Linked DNA regions of Homo sapiens. The protein of the gene in region 3 interacts with the protein of the main gene of each other region in a biochemical or structural test. Each region holds a gene or a part of one and is shown on either strand. Other genes may lie near its edges. The genes, in order: RPS6KB1, RPS6KA1 and POLDIP3.

Evidence for each region.
Region 1: of the proteins of POLDIP3 (region 3) and RPS6KB1, one has a biochemical effect on the other in vitro, tested with the Homo sapiens proteins (one study listed by BioGRID).
Region 2: the proteins of POLDIP3 (region 3) and RPS6KA1 form a complex in vitro, tested with the Homo sapiens proteins (one study listed by BioGRID).

Annotation. Positions count from the first base shown.
Region 1 is NC_000017.11:59,896,082-59,899,729, forward strand, and holds part of RPS6KB1 (ribosomal protein S6 kinase beta-1), read left to right. Parts: intron 1-3,648. UniProt on the Homo sapiens protein: Serine/threonine-protein kinase that acts downstream of mTOR signaling in response to growth factors and nutrients to promote cell proliferation, cell growth and cell cycle progression.
Region 2 is NC_000001.11:26,546,752-26,550,399, forward strand, and holds part of RPS6KA1 (ribosomal protein S6 kinase alpha-1), read left to right. Parts: intron 1-115; coding exon 116-232; intron 233-437; coding exon 438-519; intron 520-3,648. UniProt on the Homo sapiens protein: Serine/threonine-protein kinase that acts downstream of ERK (MAPK1/ERK2 and MAPK3/ERK1) signaling and mediates mitogenic and stress-induced activation of the transcription factors CREB1, ETV1/ER81 and NR4A1/NUR77, regulates translation through RPS6 and EIF4B phosphorylation, and mediates cellular proliferation, survival, and differentiation by modulating mTOR signaling and repressing pro-apoptotic function of BAD and DAPK1.
Region 3 is NC_000022.11:42,594,367-42,598,014, reverse strand, and holds part of POLDIP3 (polymerase delta-interacting protein 3), read left to right. Parts: intron 1-1,649; coding exon 1,650-1,829; intron 1,830-2,400; coding exon 2,401-2,478; intron 2,479-3,648. UniProt on the Homo sapiens protein: Is involved in regulation of translation. Is preferentially associated with CBC-bound spliced mRNA-protein complexes during the pioneer round of mRNA translation. Contributes to enhanced translational efficiency of spliced over nonspliced mRNAs.

The DNA.
Region 1 (3,648 bases), on a different chromosome or scaffold from region 3:
TCTCTATGACAGTGGCTTTGGAGCAGGGCAGGGGAGAAAACTGGATAGGAAGGTGCTTTATATCTTCATTAGTTGAACTGATAGAATTTCCAGACTGGGTTTATTTTATTTTATTTTTTTTTCTTTTCTGAGACAGAGTCTTGCTCTATTTGCCCAGGCTGGAGTGCAATGGCGCTATCTCGGCTCACTGCAGCCTCCACTTCCCGGGTTCAAGCGATTCTCCTGCCTCAGCCTCCCGAGTAGCTGGGATTACAGGCACCCGCCACCAGGCCCGGCTAATTTTTGTATTTTTAGTAGAGACGGGGTTTCTCCATGTTGGTCAGGCTGGTCCGGAACTTCCAAACTTGGGTGATCTGCCTGCCTTGGCCTCTCAAAATACAGGTGTGAGCCACCGCACCCAGCCAGGTTTATTCTTTTTTGAAAGTACAGTACTCTGTTAAAATTCCTGTGTAAACTGGGACTTTTCTTTTCACTTTCTTGTGTTTCAAGAACAGTAGGTGTTCCAGGGCTTTTGTCCTGCTGGGTACAAGCAAGTAGGATTTTGAGAAGGTGTGAGGAGGAGGTCAGAAAAATTGGTGGAAATAGGAAAGAGAAAGAAATATGGCCCCGATTTTGGGGAGAGAAAGTCTGGGGAAAGAGCAAAGGCAATTAAAGAGGATTTTGAGGAAGAGACTTCTGTAAAATATGTCTTAGCAACACTTTTTGGAGTTGAAAATATTTCTTTTTAGTGTGTTATTTTTTCTAAGAGGTGCCTCAAGATGGATAATGGAAGATTTGGAGTACGATTGGGTTGACAATCCAAGGAGATTCGGTGACATCCAGATTACCCTGAAATAAAAAAAAAAAAAAATTCTGGAAAATGAGAGAAGTTTAGATTCTTAGAAAATCTTCTGATAGTTTCTATTTGTGAATTTATAGACTTTAATTTATTACACAAAGTTTTTAAACATTGGTGCATATCAGTTTTCCTCATTTTATAGTAAGGAAACTGAGGCATAGGCCATATGATAGCCAAAGATCACATAGTGGTAGTGTCTTCTGACTTAATTCAGCAGGCTTCATTGCACAGGTTCTTCATTGCATTTACTAGTTGTGTTTATAATGTTCCTCTTTGTGGTATGTCAAAAGTGAATTCAGATTCCTTTGGCCATACTCACTCTGTGACCTGGAGTAAATTCCTTAATCTCTAATGTTTTCTATAACATGAGGGTTACATTAAATAAGTACGTAAAGTACAGTACTCTCAAAATATCCTGGCGTATTAAGCAATTAGCTAGTTCACAGAAATTCAGCTTGTCTTGTCATTGCTAAGGAACCAATCATTCAGGTTTAACCTCGTATACCTAGAGACTTAATAATTGCAGTTAAACTCGAGGTGCTGTATTTTTACAACTGTAGTATCATAGTGTGTATTTTTTTTTAAAACTAATTGATCCCGTTTAGAGAGATGTGCCTTTCAAGGTACGTTACAGAGTGACTATGCGTTAGTAAATATAGGTATTTCCATAGTTTATTTAATTAGAGATTAAAAGATGAGACTAAATGATACATTTATGGACAAAGTTGAATATCTGCCACCTAACTTAAAAAAGATCCTGTTTAAGGCCGGGCACAGTGGCTCATGCCTGTAATCCCAGCACTTTGGGAGGCCGAGGCAGGTGGATCACGATGTCAGGAGCAGGAGACCAGCCTGGCCAATATGGTGAAACCCAGTTTCTACTAAAAATACAAAAATTAGCCAGGCATGGTGGTGCACACCTCTAGTCCCAGCTATTCAGGAGGCTGAGGCAGGAGAATCTCTTGAACCTGGGAGGTGGAGGTTGCAGTGAGCCAAGATCATACCACTGCACTCCAGCCTGGGCGACACAGTGAGATTCCGTCTCAAAAAAAAAAAAAAAAGATTCTGTTTAAATATCTCAGAGGAATATAATCAAAGCCTATTGGTAAGAGGGGAGTTTTTGGGCGGAGGGTGTCTTTTTTGTTTGTTTTTTTGTTTCACTGTTGATGATATCATTTGGGGCAGTAAATTGAAACTAAGGAAAAGTTTTCCTTCAGAGAATTTAGATTGCAAAAATGTTGGAATCTTCTCTGCTCTCTATAGCATTAAGAGTAGTAGAAAACTGTAATGCAATTTAAAAAATTCTCACTTTGTACTCTAATTCAAAATTTGAAATAATCACGCAGGCTTACTGTACAAGTTTCAGATTGGGACATCAGATTTTTATTGAGTAAAAGGTTTAAAATTTTTGAAAACCAAAGTGCTATATAGATAGTATATACTCAAATATTCATGATTATGAAAAATTATAGAAAAAATATCAATACTTATCTTGCTTTGTAATATATACTTACTATAAAGCAGCAACTTTTTTTTATTTTTTATTTTTTTGAGACGGAGTTTTGCTCTTGTGGCCCAGGCTGGAGTGCAGTGGTGCGATCTCGGCTCACTGCAACCTCTGCCTCCTGGGTTCAAGCTATTCTCCTGCCTCAGCCTCCCGAGTAGCTGGGATTACAGGTGCCGACTACCACACCCAGCTAATTTTTTGTATTTTTTTGGTAGAGACGGGGTTTCACCATGTTGGCCAGGCTGGTCTCAAACTCTTGACTTCAGGCGATACACCTGCCTCGGCCTCCCAAAGTGCTGGGATTACAGGCATGAGCCACCGTGCCCGGCCAGCAGCAACTATTTTTAAATAGCCCAAGAGTTTAGGCAAAGTTCTACCCTTTCTTCCATTTCCTCTAAGTTACTGAATCTTGTCAATCCTAATGAACACAGCAGACATTGGATAGGCCATAAAGCTTAAGGCAGCAGAAAAAAATTAGGAGTAAAGAGTTTCCTGGCCAGGCGGGGTGGCTCATGCCTGTAATCCCAGCACTTTGGGAGGCCAAGGTGGGCAGATCACCTGAGGTCAGGGGTTCGAGACCAGCCTGGCCAACATGGTGAAAACCCCGTCTCTATTAAAAATACAAAAATTAGCCGGGCCTGGTGTCAGGCACCTGTAATCCCAGCTACTCGGGAGGCTGAGGCAGGAGAATCACTTGAACCTGGGAGGCAGAGGTTGCAGTGAGCCAAGATCGCGCCATTGTTCTCCAGCCTGGGGGACAAGAGCAAGACTTCGTCTCAGAAAAAAAAAAAAAAGGAGTAAAGAGTTTCCTGTGAAAGAGAGTTGTCAGTATGTATTACATAATGTTATTTGACACTTCTTGTGTGAGCCTTCTAGAGGTAACACTGAGTAGCAGGAAAGATTTGTGCCTCAAATGCTTCTGTCCTAGACAGTAACGGTAGAAGTTATTAGCACAATATGCAGGTGCCAGCATTATAGGTCTGGCCAGCTTAGGAAATGAAACATAGCTACAGGGCGTATCTTGTGAGGTGGCTTCAAAATCATGGTCCAGTCTTAACTACTCTGTAGTCTTTAATTTAGAATTAAGTAAAACTAACATTAAAGAAAAAACAATTATGTAATACCAGTTTTATCACATCTGGAAGAAGTTAGTCTTTTGTCATAAAAGTGAAGCCATCCTAGGCGATTACGTAGAGCAACAAAGACAAAAAAAACCTTTAACCATGACCACCCCCATATCCCACACATAAAAGAAACTGTATCCAGTTAAAATGGTGAGAATTGGTTTTTTCCCCCTTGATAC
Region 2 (3,648 bases), on a different chromosome or scaffold from region 3:
CTATTGGGCCTTTAGGTTCCATCTGCTGTGGTCTGGTGGGAATGGACTTGGGCAGGGGAGCCTCCTGCTGCCTGGATGGGGCCCACCATGCCCACCAGCTCTGTCCCTCCATCAGGATGAGGGCGTCCTCAAGGAGATCTCCATCACGCACCACGTCAAGGCTGGCTCTGAGAAGGCTGATCCATCCCATTTCGAGCTCCTCAAGGTTCTGGGCCAGGGATCCTTTGGCAAAGTGAGTCATGAGCCCATAGCTGTGAAGGCAACACTCGTCATGTTAGAGGTGGGGGTCAAGGGTCACCTAGGGGCCCAAAGGATCAGAGGTCACCTTGGTACCCAGGGAGAGCAAAAAGGTCAGCTTGGGGCTCAGAGAAGATAGAGGTCAGCCTGGACTCAGACCTCTCCCATCTTCTGCCCTGCTTCCTGCTCTGCCTTCTCAGGTCTTCCTGGTGCGGAAAGTCACCCGGCCTGACAGTGGGCACCTGTATGCTATGAAGGTGCTGAAGAAGGCAACGCTGAAAGGTGAGTGGGGACACCTCCCTGTGCAGAACCCAGGCTTGGCTGAGGGAGGCAGCCCAGACTTCAAGGGCCTTGGGTCTGGCAAGGGAGACAGCTCTGTCTTCAGGAGCACCTAGTTCAAAGGTGGAGAAACAGGCCTATTTCTCAGCTATCCCTCGCCAGCCAATCCTCCTCCCCCTAAGCCAAGTGCTAGTGACTGGCTGTGAAGGTCTGGAAGGTGGTAATAGGGTAAATGCAATGTGTTTGTCAGGGGGCGGGGCCCTCAACTACCAAGCTGGTCAAGCAGAGGCATTCTGACTGTTGATGCTAGAAGAGTCTGGGGGAGACCTCTGTGGCCCCTAACTCAGGGGCCTGAGAGAAGGGCGTGAGTGAAGAGGCAGGGAGCCCAGGGAGGCAGCTGGGCTAGGCAAGAGAGGGTGAGTCCAGGCAGGGCCACAGAGCTGGATGGCAGAGAGGTTCAGAAGGGAGCCCCGAGCCAAGGTTAGAGTTCTGGGGACTTACAAAGGGTGTGAAGATGGTTGGTAGTGGGCTTTGGGTTGGATACTGACCACTTGGCCTGGGAACCAGTGTGACCACTGACCCGGCAGAGTCATAGCCAAGTCTCTCTTTAAATAAGTCAAGGCCGGGCGCGGTGGCTCACACCTGTAATCCCAGCACTTTGGGAGGCTGAGGTGGGCGGGTCATTTGAGGTCAGGAGTTCAAGACCTGACCAACATGTTGAAACCCCGTCTCTACTAAAAATACAAAGAAATGAGCTGGGTGTGGTGGTGTGCACCTCTGATCCCAGTCAGAGCCAAATCCTAGCTGGGGAGGTAGTGGGGGCAGTAGGAGGCGTCAGCCTTAAGGACGTTATGGGTGGCTTTGGTATCCTAAGGCCAGCCTGGTGGGTGTGGAAGTCATCCCCCAGGAGGTATGGTGGCAGCTTCAGAGGGAGGAGAAAGATGAAAAGCCTGGGTCCCTGCTGTGAAGGGCTCACAGGCTGGGCAGGAGAGGCTAAGCATACCCGACAGTGTGGTGCAGCCGGTGCTGTGACTGGTGTGCGTGGATATCCGACGCGCTGGGGAGCTGGGAGTGGTGGTGTAGTCTTGTAGAGGGTGGGCCCAGAGGCCAAGGGGACACCTAAGGAGCGGGAAGCCTTGGAGGATGAGTGGATTTCTCTAGACCAAAAATGTTTGAGGAAGGGGACCCTGGGAAGGAGAAACTGTTTGCCTGAACTAAAGTGTAGAGGTGGTTTGAAAATGTAAGGTAAGCTGGGTGCTGTGGCTCATACCTGTAATCCTAGCACTTTGGAAAGCTGAGGCGAGTGGATCACTTGAGGTCAAGAGTTCGAGACCAGCCTGGCCAACATGGGAAAACCCCATCTCTACTAAAATACAAAAATTATCTGGGTATGCTGGTATGCACACCTATAGTCCCAGCTACTCAGGAGGTTGAGGCACAAGAATTGCTTGAACCCAGGAGGTGGAGATTGCAGTGAGCCGAGATCGCGCCACCATACTCCAGCCTGGGCGATGAGAGCGAAACTCCATCTCAGAAAAAAAAAAAAAGAAAAAAGAAAATGTAAGGTGACCAAAATAGTTAACTCCGGTGTGGTCCTTGTCATGTCTAATGAGGAAAACACAAAAATTAAAACAGAAGAAGGGGACCAGCTCCTGCAGCCCTGTGTGCTGACATAGAAGGTGTGTTGGAAGGCAGCTGCAGCTTCTACTTGTAGCAAGGGCCAAGGATTGTGTCCTGAACAAGACTCCGGAAAGACATGCAGGAGGAGTACATTGGCCAGATCTCCTAAGATAAGCAGCTGTGAGCATCAATTCTGGAATGGCAGTGACGAATGAATAGAATTCATACTAGATGGATGGACTAGTGAAGGCTTTGGGACTATGAGGCTGGAGAGGAAACTGCCAATCCAGTACATGGACCAAAAAAGCCTTTAGTTTTGCATTGTGTGTATTGCTCAGACATTTTGTCTGGTCTTAGTAAGCACTCCCTAGCCTTCCACCTCTCCTTTTAATAAAAGTCAAGGCTGGGTGCGGTGGCTCATGCCTGTAATCCCAGCACTTTGGGAGGCCAAGGTGGGTGGATCATTTGAGGTCAGGAGCTCAAGACCAGCCTGGCCAACATGGTGAAACCCTGTCTCTACTAAAAATACAAAAAAAATGAGCCAGGTTTGGTGTGTCTGTAATCCCAGCTACTCAGGAGGCTGAGGCACTAGAATCGCTTGAACCTGGGAGGCAAAGGTTGCAGTGAGCCAAGATCACACCACTGCACTCCAGCTTGGGTGACAGAGTGAGACCCTGTCCCATTAAAAAAAAGTCAAAGGACACATGAGAGGTCTCAGTCAAGGGGTAATCAATATTGTGATAAACTTAGTTGAAACACACTGCCCAAAATGAACCTAGGCAGCCATGTCCAAAAGCCTGTTCTTTTTTTTTTTTTTTTTTTTTTCTTTCCCGAGATGGAGTCTCACTCTATCGCTCAGACTGGAGGGCAGTGGTGTGATCTCGGCTCACTGCAACCTCCGCTCCGCAGGTTCAGGCAATTCTCCTGCCTCAGCCTCCTGAGTAGCTGGGATTACAGGCACATGCCACCACGCCTGGCTAATTTTTGTATATATATTTTTTTCTTTTTTGAGACGGAGTTTCACTCTCGTTGCCCAGACTGGAGTGCAATGGTGCAATCTCGGCTCATCACAACCTCTGCCTCCCGGGTTCAAGTGATTCTCCTGCCTCGGCCTCACGAGTAACTGGGATTACAGGCCCACGCCACCACGCCTAGCTAATTTTGTATTTTTAGTAGAGACAGGGTTTCTCCATGTTGGTCAGGCTGGTCTCAAACTCCTGACTTCAGGTGATCCGCCTTCCTCAGCCTCCCAAAGTGCTAGTATTACAGGCATGAGCCACCACGCCTGGCCAATTTTTTTTTTTTTTTTTTTTTGAGGCAGAGTCTCACTCTGTCACCAGGCTGGAGTGCAGTGGCGTGATCTCGGCTCACTGCAACCTCCGCCTCCTGGGTTCAAGCGATTCCCCTGCCTCAGCCTCCTGAGTAGCTGGGATTACAGGCACGTGCCACCAGGCTGGCTAATTTTTTGTATTTTTTACTAGAGACAGGGTTTCACCATGTTGGCCAGGATGG
Region 3 (3,648 bases):
CCTGAGGTCAGGAGTTGGAGACCAGCTTGGCAACATGGTGAAATCCCGTCTCTACTAAAAATAAAAAATTAGCTGGGCATGATGGCGCGTGCCTGTAATCCCAGCTGCTCGGGAGGCTGAGGCAGGAGAATTGTTTGAACCCCGAGGTGGAGGTTGCAGTGAGCCAAGATTGCGCCACTGCACTCCAGCCTGGGTGACAGGGCGAGACTCCGTCTCAAAAAAAAAAAAAAAAAAGAGGTCGTGAAGCTGAATGATGCCAGTTTGTTTCTTTACAAAGGGACCAGGCCTTTCCAGTAATTAGACTGCTCAAGTCTGCTATCAAGGGAACTATCAGCTTGCTCAGTGAGTCTCTATCCCTATTTGATACCCTAATTGAATAAATGCCATATTTATACTCATGCGTCTTGTACCCTGTGAGATGGGTACTGTTGATTACCCTCGTTGATGGATGAGGGACAGGCATGGAGAGGTGAAATAAGCCTGTTCAACATCACCCAGCTGATGAGAAGCAGTGGATCTAGGAATGGAGCCCGAGCAGTCTCGCTCTCAGGGCCCTGTGTGGAGTCACTGTGCTGTCCCAGCTCTGGAGACGCAGAATTCCACATGAGGAATGTGGAATTCAGCATGGGGATGACGCTGCTTCACCCAGACTTGGAGGAGCGTGGTGAATTGCCCGTGCCCATGCTCTGATGTGCCTCTCTGGCCGCTGCGTTCCTCCTTTCTCCCTGCCCTGGGTCAGTGCCTGTAAACACTGCCCTAAATCAGCAGGGCCCCCGTCACTTCTGCTTTATGCACCTTTTTCCTCAGACACATTAATACAGGGGAGTTTTGTTTCCAAGGGACCACATCCAGATGGAGGGGCTGTTTTTGGTGATCTGCACTGCCAAATGCCCGAGTGTCCCTGACAGTCGGAGCTGATGAGGCCAAGGCTGTGTGTGGTTCCTCTGGATGGCCAGAAGAGGAACCAAAACACTGAATTCTGGGCCTTCTTAAGAGTGGTGATCAGCACATTGTGATAGAAGCATATCTGGGAATGAACTTGGCCTCAAGCTTTTGGCCTTTTAATTTTTTTTTTTGTAAGCAAAAGCAGCTTTATTAAGAAAACAAAGGAATAAAAGAATGGCTACTCCACAGGCAGAGCAGCTCTTTTACATTTTTTATAGAGATGAGGTCTCACTGTGTTGCCCAGGTTGGTCTTGAACTCCTGGCCTCAAGCAGTCCTCTCACCTCAGCCTCCCAAAGTGCTGGGATGGCAGATGTGATCCACTATGCCTGGCCAAGCTTTTGGCCTTCTGACCAGCCTCATATTGTAGAATTTTTAGAAAGTCTAAGTGGTGTGGGTGAGCCTGTGGCTCCTGGGTAATTTTCCAGGTCAGGGCTGTATGGAAGCTTCCTGCCAAGAGCTTCTAGCACTGTGGGGAGTGGCTTCTGTGAGTGCGCGTTCAGGCTGTGTGTTTTTCTCTCCCCCTGCCCCTTCCCTATGGGATGTCACTGGCAGCCGGCAGCCTTTTTGGCTCCAGACCTCTAATAGAATTAGAGAGCTGGGAGGCATCGAGGGTTCATGCTCTCAGCAAGTTGTCAACCTCTTGGGGCTTCTTCAGAACATTGCAGGTCTGGCTTCTCAGATTCTTTTCTGTCTCTTCGTTTAGGCTGGGCTAAGCAGTTCCAAGCTTTCCATGTCCAAGGCCCTCCCTCTCACCAAAGTGGTTCAGAATGATGCATACACAGCTCCTGCTCTCCCTTCCTCTATTCGAACAAAAGCCTTGACCAACATGTCCCGGACACTGGTGAACAAGGAAGAACCCCCCAAAGAGCTGCCAGCTGCTGAGGTGAGGTGATGGTGGTGACTGCAGCAGTTGGGGTCAGGAGGGCTGTATGCTTATATGTACCTCATTGTGTTCCCCACAACGCCTTTGTGAGGTGGGCATTGCCACCCCCATTCTACAGATGAGCAAACCAAGACCTAGGGACTCTTACCCTCAAAGACCTTGCAGGCTAGTGGGGACGGCAGACCTGCTGAGAGATTGCGGTATCTGGTGATATGTTAGACTCTCTCAGAAGAAAGCTATTAGGAGGGCTGAGGACAGATTATCTCATTCCAGTTGGGAAGTCTGGGAAAAAGGGCTCTTTTAGCTGAGTGGGTCTGGAAGCATGAGTAGCCTTCCAGGTAGAGGCTCAGGGCCTGAGAGGCTTGCGTATTTGGGAGATGGGAGAGGGTCCATGCTTTTAGCATAGAGTGATGGGGGGTGTAGTGGACACTGAAGTTCAGGGGGCCCATTTGTGGTAACTCTCCATGGAGCTTTCCTCTGGGCCTTCCTAGTCACGTGCCTGGAGGAATTTCTGTTGTGGGAATGCTTATCAGCCATCTGGCTTCTGGTAATGCTCTTGTCTGTGTGGCAGCCTGTTCTCAGCCCATTGGAAGGCACCAAGATGACTGTGAATAATCTGCACCCTCGAGTCACTGAGGAGGACATTGTTGTAAGTACTGTGACCTACCAAACATTTAAATCTCAAACTGCCTCTGTGGCAAAGGTCTCTTAAGACCCACCCTCAGGTTTGATGACTGCTAGGACTCACCAGACTCAGCATATAGTCACGCTCAGGGCTGAGACTAATGACAGCAAAAGGATGCAGAGCAAATGGCTCATGGGGTGAAGTCGGGGGGAAACGAGGCACAAGCCTCCAGAGGCCCCTCCCAGCAGAGTCGCACAGGATGCTGGGTGCAACTCGCAGCAAGTTGTGACAATACATGTGACACCAGGGAAGCTCATTAAAGACTCAGTACCCAAAGGTTTTACTGGGGGCTGGTCACTTCGGCATTCTCTGTGTAGCATGTACTAAAATTCCAGACTCCCAGAGGGAAAGCAGCTGTTGAGCAGAAACCATGTTGTTTGCACAGTCCAGGCACAGTGAACTGTGGGGTGGCAGGAGCCCTCCTGAGATCCGAGTTCTCAGATGCCAGCCAAGGGCCACCCCTGGAATCGGACCTTTCAAACAATAGCAGTCAGCCCAGCTGCTTCACTCTTCTGCACAGCTTCTAGCCAAGGCCAGGTGCCTGGCCTGAATCTCAGAGTCAGGGGATATCTATGCTATAATGGGTCCTAAATGGGATCCTTTAGTCCCACTGGGCAGTATCCAATAGTTGTGTTTTCCTGTGTCCTTTGGAGGTATTACAAGATGATTCCAAAGTGAAAGAAGTGAGATGGATTGGTGGTATCCACCTTCCTGGTCCATCCCGTCCCACCCATGGCAGTCATGGGCAAAACCTGTCAAATGTCTGTGAGCGGGGTTCTGGATGCAGCTAGGACTTCTTTTCAACATCATTTTCATTCAGGCACCCAAAAGAGCCATTAGTTTAGAAATCCAGGCATCCTTTGAACTGTCAGATCACAAAATGAATACGTTTGGAGAATCCAGCCTCTCCCTGCAGTTAAGTCCCAGACTAACAGACTGCACTGGTCACTACATTTGTTAAATCTTTTTGTTTTGTTTTGTTTTGTTTTTGAGATGGAGTCTCACTCTGTCACCCAAGCTAGAGTGTAATGGTGTGATCTCGGTTCACTGCAACCTCTGCCTCCCAGGCTCTAGCAATTCTCCTGCCTCAGCCTCCCGAGTAGCTGGGATTAGAGGCGCCTGCCACTACGCCTG